3 separate regions of the Homo sapiens genome follow, and all the other regions are reported to be linked to region 3. The links are microRNA targets in miRTarBase. Many come from high-throughput screens and were not tested one by one. Region 3 holds a microRNA gene; each other region holds the end of a gene's coding sequence.
Evidence for each region. The annotated mature microRNA hsa-miR-6852-3p reads UGUCCUCUGUUCCUCAG and lies in region 3 at 1,794-1,810, shown strand. An mRNA with a match to its seed (bases 2 to 7 or 8) in the 3' UTR can be bound and repressed. Matches are read on the target gene's strand: a 7mer-m8 pairs with bases 2 to 8, a 7mer-A1 pairs with bases 2 to 7 and ends in A, and an 8mer does both.

Region 1 (3,342 bases), not on the chromosome of region 3:
TTGCTCTGTCGCCCAGGCTGGAGTGCAGTGGCGTGATCTTGGCTCACTGGAAGCTCCGCCTCCCAGGTTCACGCCATTCTCCTGCCTCAGCCTCCCGAGTAGCTGGGACTACAGGTGCCTGCCACCATGCCCGGTTAATTTTTTTGTATTTTTAGTAGAGACGGGGTTTCACTGTGTTAGCCAGGATGGTCTCTATCTCCTGACCTCGTGATCTGCCCGCCTCAGCCTCCCAAAGTGCTGGGATTACAGGCGTGAGTCACCACACCCGGCCCCCCGGAATTCTTACGTTGAAATCCTAGCCCTGAAGGTGACGTGGTGATGATGTGATGATGGCAGAACCCTCACCAATGGAATCTGGGCCGCTGTAAAAGAGGCCGTGGGAGCTTGCTTGCCCCTCCCACCATGCAGTGACACAGCAAGAAGGCAGTGAGGAATGGGCCCTCGCCAGACACCAAACCTGCTGGGACCTTGACCTTAGACTTCCCAGCCTCCAGAACTTTCAGAAATGTTTGTAAGACACCCAGTTTATGGTATTTTTGTTACAGCAGCCTGAACAGACTAAAACACTAGCAGGGCAAGGCTGCTGTAACAGTAGACAAACCCCAGAAGCTGAAAAATCATAAAAGTTTTTGTCTATATTGTTCTGTCCATAATTTTTTTTAAAAGCATAAAAGTTTATTTTGTCTTCCTCAGTAGTCTGAACTGAGTATTCCAGGTTGGTCCCCGGGCTGCTCTGCTCCGTGCAGGAACTCAGGAATCCTCGTTTCTCTGCCTTCCTCTAGGCCAGCGGTTCTCTGCTAGGGTGAATTTTCCCACCAGGGTATGTTTGGCAACGTCTGGAGATACTTTGGGTGTCATGACTTGGGCTGTGATACTGGTATCTAGTGAGTGGAGGACATGGATGCTGCTGAATGTTTTACAATGCACGGGACTGCCCCCCACAACAAAGAACCGTCCTGCCCCAAATGTCAGTAGTTGAGAAACTTCCACTTGGGCCTGAAGCATTGTCCTCACTTGCAAAGTCAGAGCTGGGTCCCAGGCCCATCCATGTTCCAGCGAATGGGAAGGAGGAAGAGAGCATAAGCAGGCCCAGGTGCCACAGTGATCCTCATCCACTCCCGTCCATCCATGAGGGCCTAGTCACAGGGCCACATCTAACTTCAGGGGACGGAGTGCTGGGAAATGGAGTCTAGGTGAGTGCCCAGGAGGAAGGGAACAGCCGACTCAGGTGGGCAGCTGGCAGCTTCCCCGACAGGCGTCCTAACTGGTGCAAGAGACATGCAGGATGGAGGTGGTTGGAGGACATTTCGGTAACTAGGTCAGAGCTTGTGCAAAATGCAGAGACAAGAGAGAGCCTGACAAAGCGCAGGCACTGCCACCTGGATGGAGGCTGACAGTGGGAGGGAGGGATCAGTGAGCAGCAGGCGGGTGGCAGGAGCCTGAAATGCAGGACTGAGGAGTCTAGTCTTCGTCCTGAAGGCAGGGAAGGACCTTTGGCCAGTCTCCTGACGTTCTGCCCCGGCTCTTTCCTCCCTGAAGGTGAGTCCCTCGTGTCCATCTTACATAGTTGGGACCTTGCTGACACACACTTCTGCCTGCCTTTAGGCCGTTTCCTTGATTTTCTATGTTGCCAAGATGACTGGCAGCTGCTGGAGGTCAGGACCACAGCCTGGTTCTCAGAGCCCCAGGCACCAAGTTCCCACCCACCCTTGCAAACTCTCCTTTTTTTTTTTTTTTTTGAGATGCAGTCTTGCTCTGTCGCCCAGGCTGGAGTGCAGTGGCACGATCTCGGCTCACTGCAACCTCCGCCTCCCAGGTTCAAGTGATTCTCCTGCCTCAGCCTCCCAAATAGCTGAGATTACAGGCACGAGCCACTATGGCCGGCTAATTTTTGTACTCCCAATAGAGACGGGGTTTCACCATATTGGCCAGGCTGGTCTCGAACTCTTGACCTCATGATCCGACCTCCTCAGCCTCCCAAAGTGCTGGGATTACAGGCGTGAGCCACCTCGCCCGGCCCCACAATCTTAACCACTGTCCACTTCGGTCTCAGATCCCCCACCTCCCGAACACAATTCTACACACCTGCCTCCACAGGCTCCCCAACACTGGCCTCCATGTTCCCACCAGCCTTTCTCCACTTCGGACTCCCCGGAACTCCCTGCTGGGTTGTCCAAGGCCCACTGAGCCTGAGGCCCAGACCCCGGCAAGGAGCCTGTCTCTGACCCGTGGGGGTGATTATTGGCGGGCAGGACCCAACTAGGCCATTAGCTTTGGTTGGGGTGAGTGTGGAGGGGACCACAGTGGTGTGCTGTCTGGGAATGCCACGGCCCTGGATTAGTCACTGTCTGACCGGGCCTCTGGTTTCCACTTTGCACGGTGAAGATTTCTACCTCACGGTGTACTGGGGTAGTGGTGGGAAGAAGGCCACCACATGCGCCTCAGCTGCGTGTTGGCTGACTTCTTGGGGGAGGGGGAAGCGGGATCCACCTGATACTGTCAGCCCAGCTCCAGCTCCACTCACTTGTAAACAGTGGAAATCACAACTGACATTTGTAGGCACATGGCAGGGGGCGCTGATCCTGGCTCCCACGCTCCCAGGTCTCCCTTGCTCCACTGCTCAAGAGGACCCGAGTGTGGGAGCGAGGGGCCCGGAATTCTTGCAGAGAGGGCGGTGGAGCTGGCTTTGCGAGGATGAAGAGATAGTCTAGCCGAGTGGTCCTCAGGCCTAGCTGCACATTCGCATCACTGGAGGAACTTAAAAAATACTTAACATGTCTGGGTCCACCCCAGACTAATCAAATCGAAACTTCGGGAGATGGAGCCAGGATGTAGGCATTTTCCACACCCCCCACCCCAGCTGATTTCAGTGCGCAGCTGGGGTTCAGGTGCACAGAGCTGGGCAGGACGTAAGGTACCCAGAGCGGGAAAGCTGCCTTCTCAGCATGGACATGGTTGGAGGCCCGGGGCTGAAGCCGCCCAACTGGCCTCAGGAGACCCGGTGTCCCCGGTCACAGCTGAGCGCGGGGCTGTGCAGCGCCTTCCACATGAGCAGCATCTCGTAGGGCGCGAAGCGGTGCACTAGCAGCAACTCGCGGTACATGCAGGGGTCGAAGGAGGACTGCTGTGCGCCAGGCAGCTGCACGCCGAAGGGTCGGATGCCCTCGTGGCCGCTGGGCGCCAGGCCGGCGCGCTCCAGACACATGCCCATGTAGGCGTCGTCGATGGGGAAGAGCGGGGTGTGGCGGGCGGCCGCGCGCAGGGCCCGGGCCGTGGGGCCGGACAGGAGGAAGCCGCCGCCGCTGCAGTACACCGGGTAAGCGGACCCGGGGAAGAGCTGCG
Region 2 (3,000 bases), not on the chromosome of region 3:
AAGCGCTGCTCACCAGGACTTTCCTCTCCGCAACATGCAGGGCAGCCAGCAATGAGCCCGTGCCCTTTGGGCGGGAGGAATGTGTTCATCTGAGATGCTGGTGATCATCTTGGCACTTGGTAGAAATGTGGGGATGGGGTCAGAGGGTGGGGTCTGGTTTTCTGAGTGCCTTGGGGGCTACAGAAAGTGCTGGAGCTGGGAGTAATTCTAATTGGGCTCTTAAGGTGGGGCGGGAAACTAGATAAAAAGAAAACTTCTATCGTCTTCCAGAGCCTCTGAGGGTAAGACTGTGGAAGTTCCTTACAAAGGAGATGTGGAAAACACTATCCTGGATATTCTCGGGGGACTGAGGTCCACGTGCACCTACGTGGGGGCCGCCAAACTCAAGGAGCTCAGCAGGAGGGCAACATTCATCCGGGTGACCCAGCAGCACAACACCGTGTTCAGCTAACCCTGGGGACAAAGCAGCGTCTGGCTCGAGTGGAAGCGTCCAAACCTGCTTTTCCCATCTCCCCCCAAGTCTGTTCCGTCAGAGCTTCTGGCTGCTCCTGAATGGTGGAATGCTGTGTCCTCTCTTCTGTCTCCTGCTGCCTGGAGGCTTCGGGGCTCTCCCGCCTGCCTTCTCGGGGCCCAGACGCAAGGCACCGATTGGGCCAACATCAGAGCCCTGCTGCCCAGAACTCATAACCTCATTGTTCAAACCAACACTTGCACCTTTCTCTTTTTCTCTTTCTCTCTCCCTTTCTTTGTTTTTCTTTCTTTTTTAAAAGAAGATGGTTTCACTTTAATATAATGCTATTATCTTAAGACTTAATGGAGTTGCTGGAGTTTGTATTTCCAGGAGTCAAGTTGAATGGTTTGGGATTTGTTTTGCTACCTTCCTAGACAGGCTGATGGCAAGCCTCTCCCGGCGATTAGCAGACAAGTCACCTTAGGAGGGGCAAGGAGAGGAGGACAGTGCGGGGGCCAAGGGTGGACAGGCCGGAGTCAAAGTAACTGGCATCCCTCACCTCTAGCTTTTGGTTGCTGCAAAAGAACAAAAGCAATTAACTGGACAGATGAACATGAATTGTTTTCCCAGCTGATACTCACAAAGTTGAGCCAATGTGTTTTCCCCGAGTTTCATTACATGTGCTTTTCAGGGACAAGTCATCTGTCGCTACCAGTTTGCTGTTGCCTCTAGGAAGCTGTCCCTGTCCTGGCTTCTCATTTCGTTTTGTTTTCCTCCATCTTTTTTTTCCCCCTTCTCAGTCCCAACTTGTCTTAATTTGAAATTCCACAGGATGTTTTATGGGAAGGTTGTCTCCCAAGAAATTAGCAGGTGGAGTCACACTGAAAAAGAGCCAAAGCTTTGATCAGTGGCATCCTAAAAGGCATTGGTTTGAGACATGAGTTAGAGCCATTCCCTCAGTGTGCCAGTGAATCCTTTCTCGGAAGGACCACATGGCACTACTGTATAAGGGTCAGTTAACGGGTTGGGAACAATGACATTGTCTTGGAGAATTGGCCTCTGCAGCTGACCTGCAGCAGTCCACCAGGATGCTTGTTTAAACAGTGAACGCAGAAGAAGTGATGACCGGCCGCTAAACTTTGAAGTATTGAGTTCCAGGCCTGGAAAGCGTATGCAGATCAGGTTGTTTTACTTTGCTTTTTAATAAGGCTGAAGAGCAGATACACAAGTCAGTTTTCTTTGGAAAGGCAAGCAATGACCCTGGAGTAGAGAAGATCCACAGGGTGCTGCTGTGCCAGGGTGAATGAATGGCCTGATTGTCCACAGTGACCGATGGCATGAGAAGGGTCCAACCAGAGCTGTCACACTCTGGGATAATACAGGCCCACTGTTGGTCCTTTAAGATTATGTTTAGAGATCCAGCCAGCAGCATTGTCTCCATTGTAATACTTTCCCCTACTAAATCCATTAAGAGTTTTTTTTTTTTTTTTTTTTTTTTTTTTTTAATTTGAGACAGGGTCTCTGTTGCCCAGGCTGGAGTGCAGTGGCAGGATCACAGCTCACCACAGCCTTGACCTCCCGGGCTCAGGTGATCCTCTGACCTCAGTCTCCCAAGTAGCTGGGACTACAGACACCTGCTACCACGCCCAGCTAATTTTTGTATTTTTTATAGAGACAGGGTCTCACCATGTTGCCCAGACTGGTCTCAAACTCCAGGGCTCAAGCCATCCACCTGCGTCAACCTCCCCAAAGTGCTAGGATTACAGGTGTGAGCCACTGTGCCCGGCCCATTAAGAATAACTCTTGCACCTGTAGAAACACAAGGGCTGCACTTTGGAGACGGGAGGGCCAAGAGGCGATTTAACGTGGAGCAAGACATGGGGCTTGGCTGCAGGCTCCCCGCCTTGCTCTCTGTGGTCTTCCAGCTGCTTGTAACTGAGTAGTTACAAAATCAAAAACTCGTTAGGACCATTTTGAAGCAGAGCCTTCAGAAAGAGAATGTCTTTTTTTTTTTTTTTTTTCCTGAGACCAAGTCTTGCTCTGTCACCCAGGCAGAGTGCAGTGGCACAATCTCGGCTCACTGCAACCTCCGCCTCCCAGGTTCAAGTGATTCTCGTGCCTCAGCCTTCAGAGTAGCCGGGATTACAGGTGCCCGCCACGTCTGGCTAATGTTTATGTTTTTAGTAGAGATGGGTTTTTGCCATGTTACCCAGGCTGGTCTCAAACTCCTGGGCTCGGGTGATCCACCCACCTCAGCCTCCCAAAGTGCTGGGATTACAGGTGTGAGCCACCGCGCCTGGCCCATAAAGAGAACTTGTAAGGCTCCGTCACCGTTTGCCTTAGCAGGTTCATCTCTGCCTCTGATAGGAGTGGGGCTGGGGGAGCCCACACCAGAGTGTCCCTTGGACCGGGTGTCCCACAGGACCTGGAGATGAAGCATGCAGCTTTGCTGCTGACCCACTGGGCTTCCTGTGCCAGAGCTGGGGGAGGAGGAGGACAGCCAGTGAACTCGACGCCATTTGCCTTGGGCCACTCTGGCCGTTCCATCT
Region 3 (3,342 bases):
GAATTTTGTTTTAGTAGAGACAGGGCTTCACCATGTTGGCCAGGATGGTCTCGATCTCTTGACCTCGTGATCTGCCCCCCTCGGCCTCCCATAGTGCTGGGATTACAGGCGTGAGCCACTGTGCCCGGCCCTCTTGGTCTTGTAGAAGTGTCTCAGTTGGATTCAGTCATGGGCTGAGCTAAACACCAAGTTTGGGGAAGTTTAATTACTGTCACTTGAAACCCTAACCTCAGCCTGTTCACCTACAACGCCCCCTTTCTTTTTTCACTTTCAGAGGCAGTAGAGCTAGTCATCTCCCATGTCGCGTGAATGGAGGCGATCTCTCAAATTCTTTTCACTTGGGCAACCCTGTCTCCTTTCTCACCCCAGGTGGCTAAAGCAGTGACCCAGGCTCTGAACCGCTGTGTCAGCTGCCTACCTGGCCAGCGCGATGTGGATAATGCCCTGAGGGCAGTTGGAGATGCCAGCAAGCGACTCCTGAGTGACTCGGTAGGAGGACGGTAGGGGGTGGGGGAACGTAGGAGTCAAAGAATGCCAGGCCTCTCCTTCCTCCCTCTCGGTTGTCCTTTGACCCTGACTTCCCAGATCTGTCCCCTTTCATTACTCCCAGGCTATGTGCCCACCTTTTCAGCCCTCCTTTACCAGACTTCTCCCTGCATCATTCCCCACTCTTCTGTCTGACTTCCCCTCTCACCTTGCAGCTTCCTCCTAGCACTGGGACATTTCAAGAAGCTCAGAGCCGGTTGAATGAAGCTGCTGCTGGGCTGAATCAGGCAGCCACAGAACTGGTGCAGGCCTCTCGGGGAACCCCTCAGGACCTGGCTCGAGCCTCAGGCCGATTTGGACAGGACTTCAGCACCTTCCTGGAAGCTGGTGTGGAGATGGCAGGCCAGGCTCCGGTATGAAGAGGCAGAGGGTCTGGTTGAATGGTTCCCACTAAGGGTTAGATAGGAGGCAGTTGAGTGACCAGTCCTGACTTGCTCCTGGCTCCCTTCCCTCCCCAGTCTCTAGCACTACTTGAGTGTCTGGGAAAGAAGATCCCTTTTAGAGACAGATAAGAAAGGACAGGACAATGCATTGACCTTGTCACCTTCAACAGAGCCAGGAGGACCGAGCCCAAGTTGTGTCCAACTTGAAGGGCATCTCCATGTCTTCAAGCAAACTTCTTCTGGCTGCCAAGGCCCTGTCCACGGACCCTGCTGCCCCTAACCTCAAGAGTCAGCTGGCTGCAGCTGCCAGGTAAGTAGTTGCTGAGAAGCCCAGCCCTGGACTGTGTGAGAGAGACTGGGGAGCAGGCAGTTCATGAGAGCTTCTTGGCTTAGGAATGGTTATAGGCAAAAGATAAATACTTACATAGGACCCAGGAATGATGACCTATTCACCTTTTCACTCAACTTTCTGTCACTCCCAGGGCAGTAACTGACAGCATCAATCAGCTCATCACTATGTGCACCCAGCAGGCACCCGGCCAGAAGGAGTGTGATAACGCCCTGCGGGAATTGGAGGTAGACACATGGCAGGCTGATGGCATTGAGGTTGAGGGAAGTGTTCTGGTTTTGGGCCTGAGGGAGGTGTCTTGGATCTCACTTTGCCCTCCCCCTACACAGACGGTCCGGGAACTCCTGGAGAACCCAGTCCAGCCCATCAATGACATGTCCTACTTTGGTTGCCTGGACAGTGTAATGGAGAACTCAAAGGTCAGCACAGCCAGGAACTCGGAGGAGAGAGGGCAGTAGGATGGAGCTAACCAGATGCTGCCCTGGGGTTCTGAGGACATGCTCTGACTCCCCTGATGTCCTCTGTTCCTCAGGTGCTGGGCGAGGCCATGACTGGCATCTCCCAAAATGCCAAGAACGGAAACCTGCCAGAGTTTGGAGATGCCATTTCCACAGCCTCAAAGGCACTTTGTGGCTTCACCGAGGCAGCTGCACAGGTTATTTTCCTGAGATGGGTTCTTTGAATGGCCCCTACTTTCTTTACCCCATTTTCTCTCAGCCTGACATACCTGTAGATAAATCAAGAAGTTTATGTTTGCAAAGCCAACTCTATGGAATCTGGGTTGTCCTCCTCCTGAAGTGGAGACACTTGTCAGCAATTACTGAACACCAGCAGTTCTGATTTCTGTAATTCCTGAACCCTGGTACTTTGGTTAGGATTACACTGCCCAACCGTGAGGCCTTTTCCAGCTGGCTTTCTCAAAATATACTAATTAGCTTATACAAACTATTTTTTCATGTTATTACTACTTTCTTTTTTTTTTTTTTTTTTTTTGAGACAGCGTTTCGCTCTGTCGCCCAGGCTGAAGTGCAATGGCGTGATCTAGGCTCACTGCAAGCTCCGCCTCCCGGGTTCACGCTAGTCTCCTGCCTCAGCCTTCCAAGTAGCTGGGACTACAGGCGCTCACCACCACACCCGGCTAATTTTTTGTATTTTTTTTTTTTTTTTTAGTAAAGACAGGGTTTCACCATGTTAGCCAGGATGGTCTCGATATCCTGACTCGTGATCCACCTGCCTCGGCCTCCCAAAGTGCTGGAATTACAGGCGTGAGCCACCGCGCCTGGCCTGTAATCACTACTTTCTTTTTTTTTTTTTTTTTTTTTTTTTTTTGAGACCGAGTTTCGCTCTGTCGCCCAGGCTGGAGTGCAGTGGCGCGATCTAGACTCACTGCAAGCTCCGCCTCCCGGGTTCACGCCATTCTCCTGCCTCAGCCTCCCGTGTAGCTGGGACTACAGGCGCGCGCCACCATGCCCGGCTAATTTTTGTATTTTTAGTAGAGACGGGGTTTCACCGTGTTAGCCAGGATGGTCTCGATCTCCTGACCTCGTGATCCGCCCGTCTCGACCTCCCAAAGTGCTGGGATTACAGGCGTGAGCCACCGCGCCCGGCCAATCACTACTTTCTTAAAATAGTACTAGTGACAAAATTTCCAGTTACTTGAGTTATCACTTAACTTTGCCTTTTCCCACATTATCAAGTATAAAACTACCTATTAGCTGTAAAGTATTTTGCTTTAGTATATGAATCCTTAAAACAAACTGGCATCATAAGAGTTCACTTCAGACTATTTTCCCTGAAAGCCTACCATCCTAGCCCTCCATCTCCACCACCTCCCTGTGCCCTGTCAGAATAGGCGCCTTGCTCTAGATGGCTTGTTTGATTTTGTTTTTTTGTTTTTTTGGTTTTTTGTTTGTTTGTTTTTTGAGACGGAGTCTCGCTCTGTCGCCAGGCTGGAGTGCAGAGGCATAATCTCGGCTCACTGCAACCTCCGCCTCCCGGGTTCAAGTGATTCTCCTACCTCAGCCTCCCGAGTAGCTGGGACTACAGGCGCCTGCCACCACACCC

Region 1: miRTarBase lists B3GNT6 as a target of hsa-miR-6852-3p. The part of its 3' UTR that is shown has no 7-base or 8-base seed match.
Region 2: the mRNA of GMPR is a reported target of hsa-miR-6852-3p. The part of its 3' UTR that is shown has no 7-base or 8-base seed match.

Annotation. Positions count from the first base shown.
Region 1 is chr11:77,040,354-77,043,695 of GRCh38, reverse strand. It overlaps B3GNT6 (UDP-GlcNAc:betaGal beta-1,3-N-acetylglucosaminyltransferase 6), which reads right to left. Exons shown (of 2, transcript NM_138706.5): 2 at 1,723-3,342. The coding sequence ends at 2,990. Among named protein-coding and RNA genes, the nearest start is that of ACER3-AS1, 6.3 kb to the right of the region's middle.
Region 2 is chr6:16,294,736-16,297,735 of GRCh38, forward strand. It overlaps GMPR (guanosine monophosphate reductase), which reads left to right. Exons shown (of 9, transcript NM_006877.4): 9 at 271-814. The coding sequence ends at 451. Among named protein-coding and RNA genes, the nearest start is that of GMPR, 58 kb to the left of the region's middle.
Region 3 is chr9:35,709,152-35,712,493 of GRCh38, reverse strand. It overlaps MIR6852 (microRNA 6852), which reads left to right and starts at 1,753; the gene lies at 1,753-1,818. TLN1 (talin 1) reads left to right here. Exons shown (of 57, transcript NM_006289.4): 28 at 370-489; 29 at 702-899; 30 at 1,100-1,239; 31 at 1,412-1,505; 32 at 1,608-1,697; 33 at 1,811-1,933. RefSeq lists enhancers at 373-422, 514-1,713.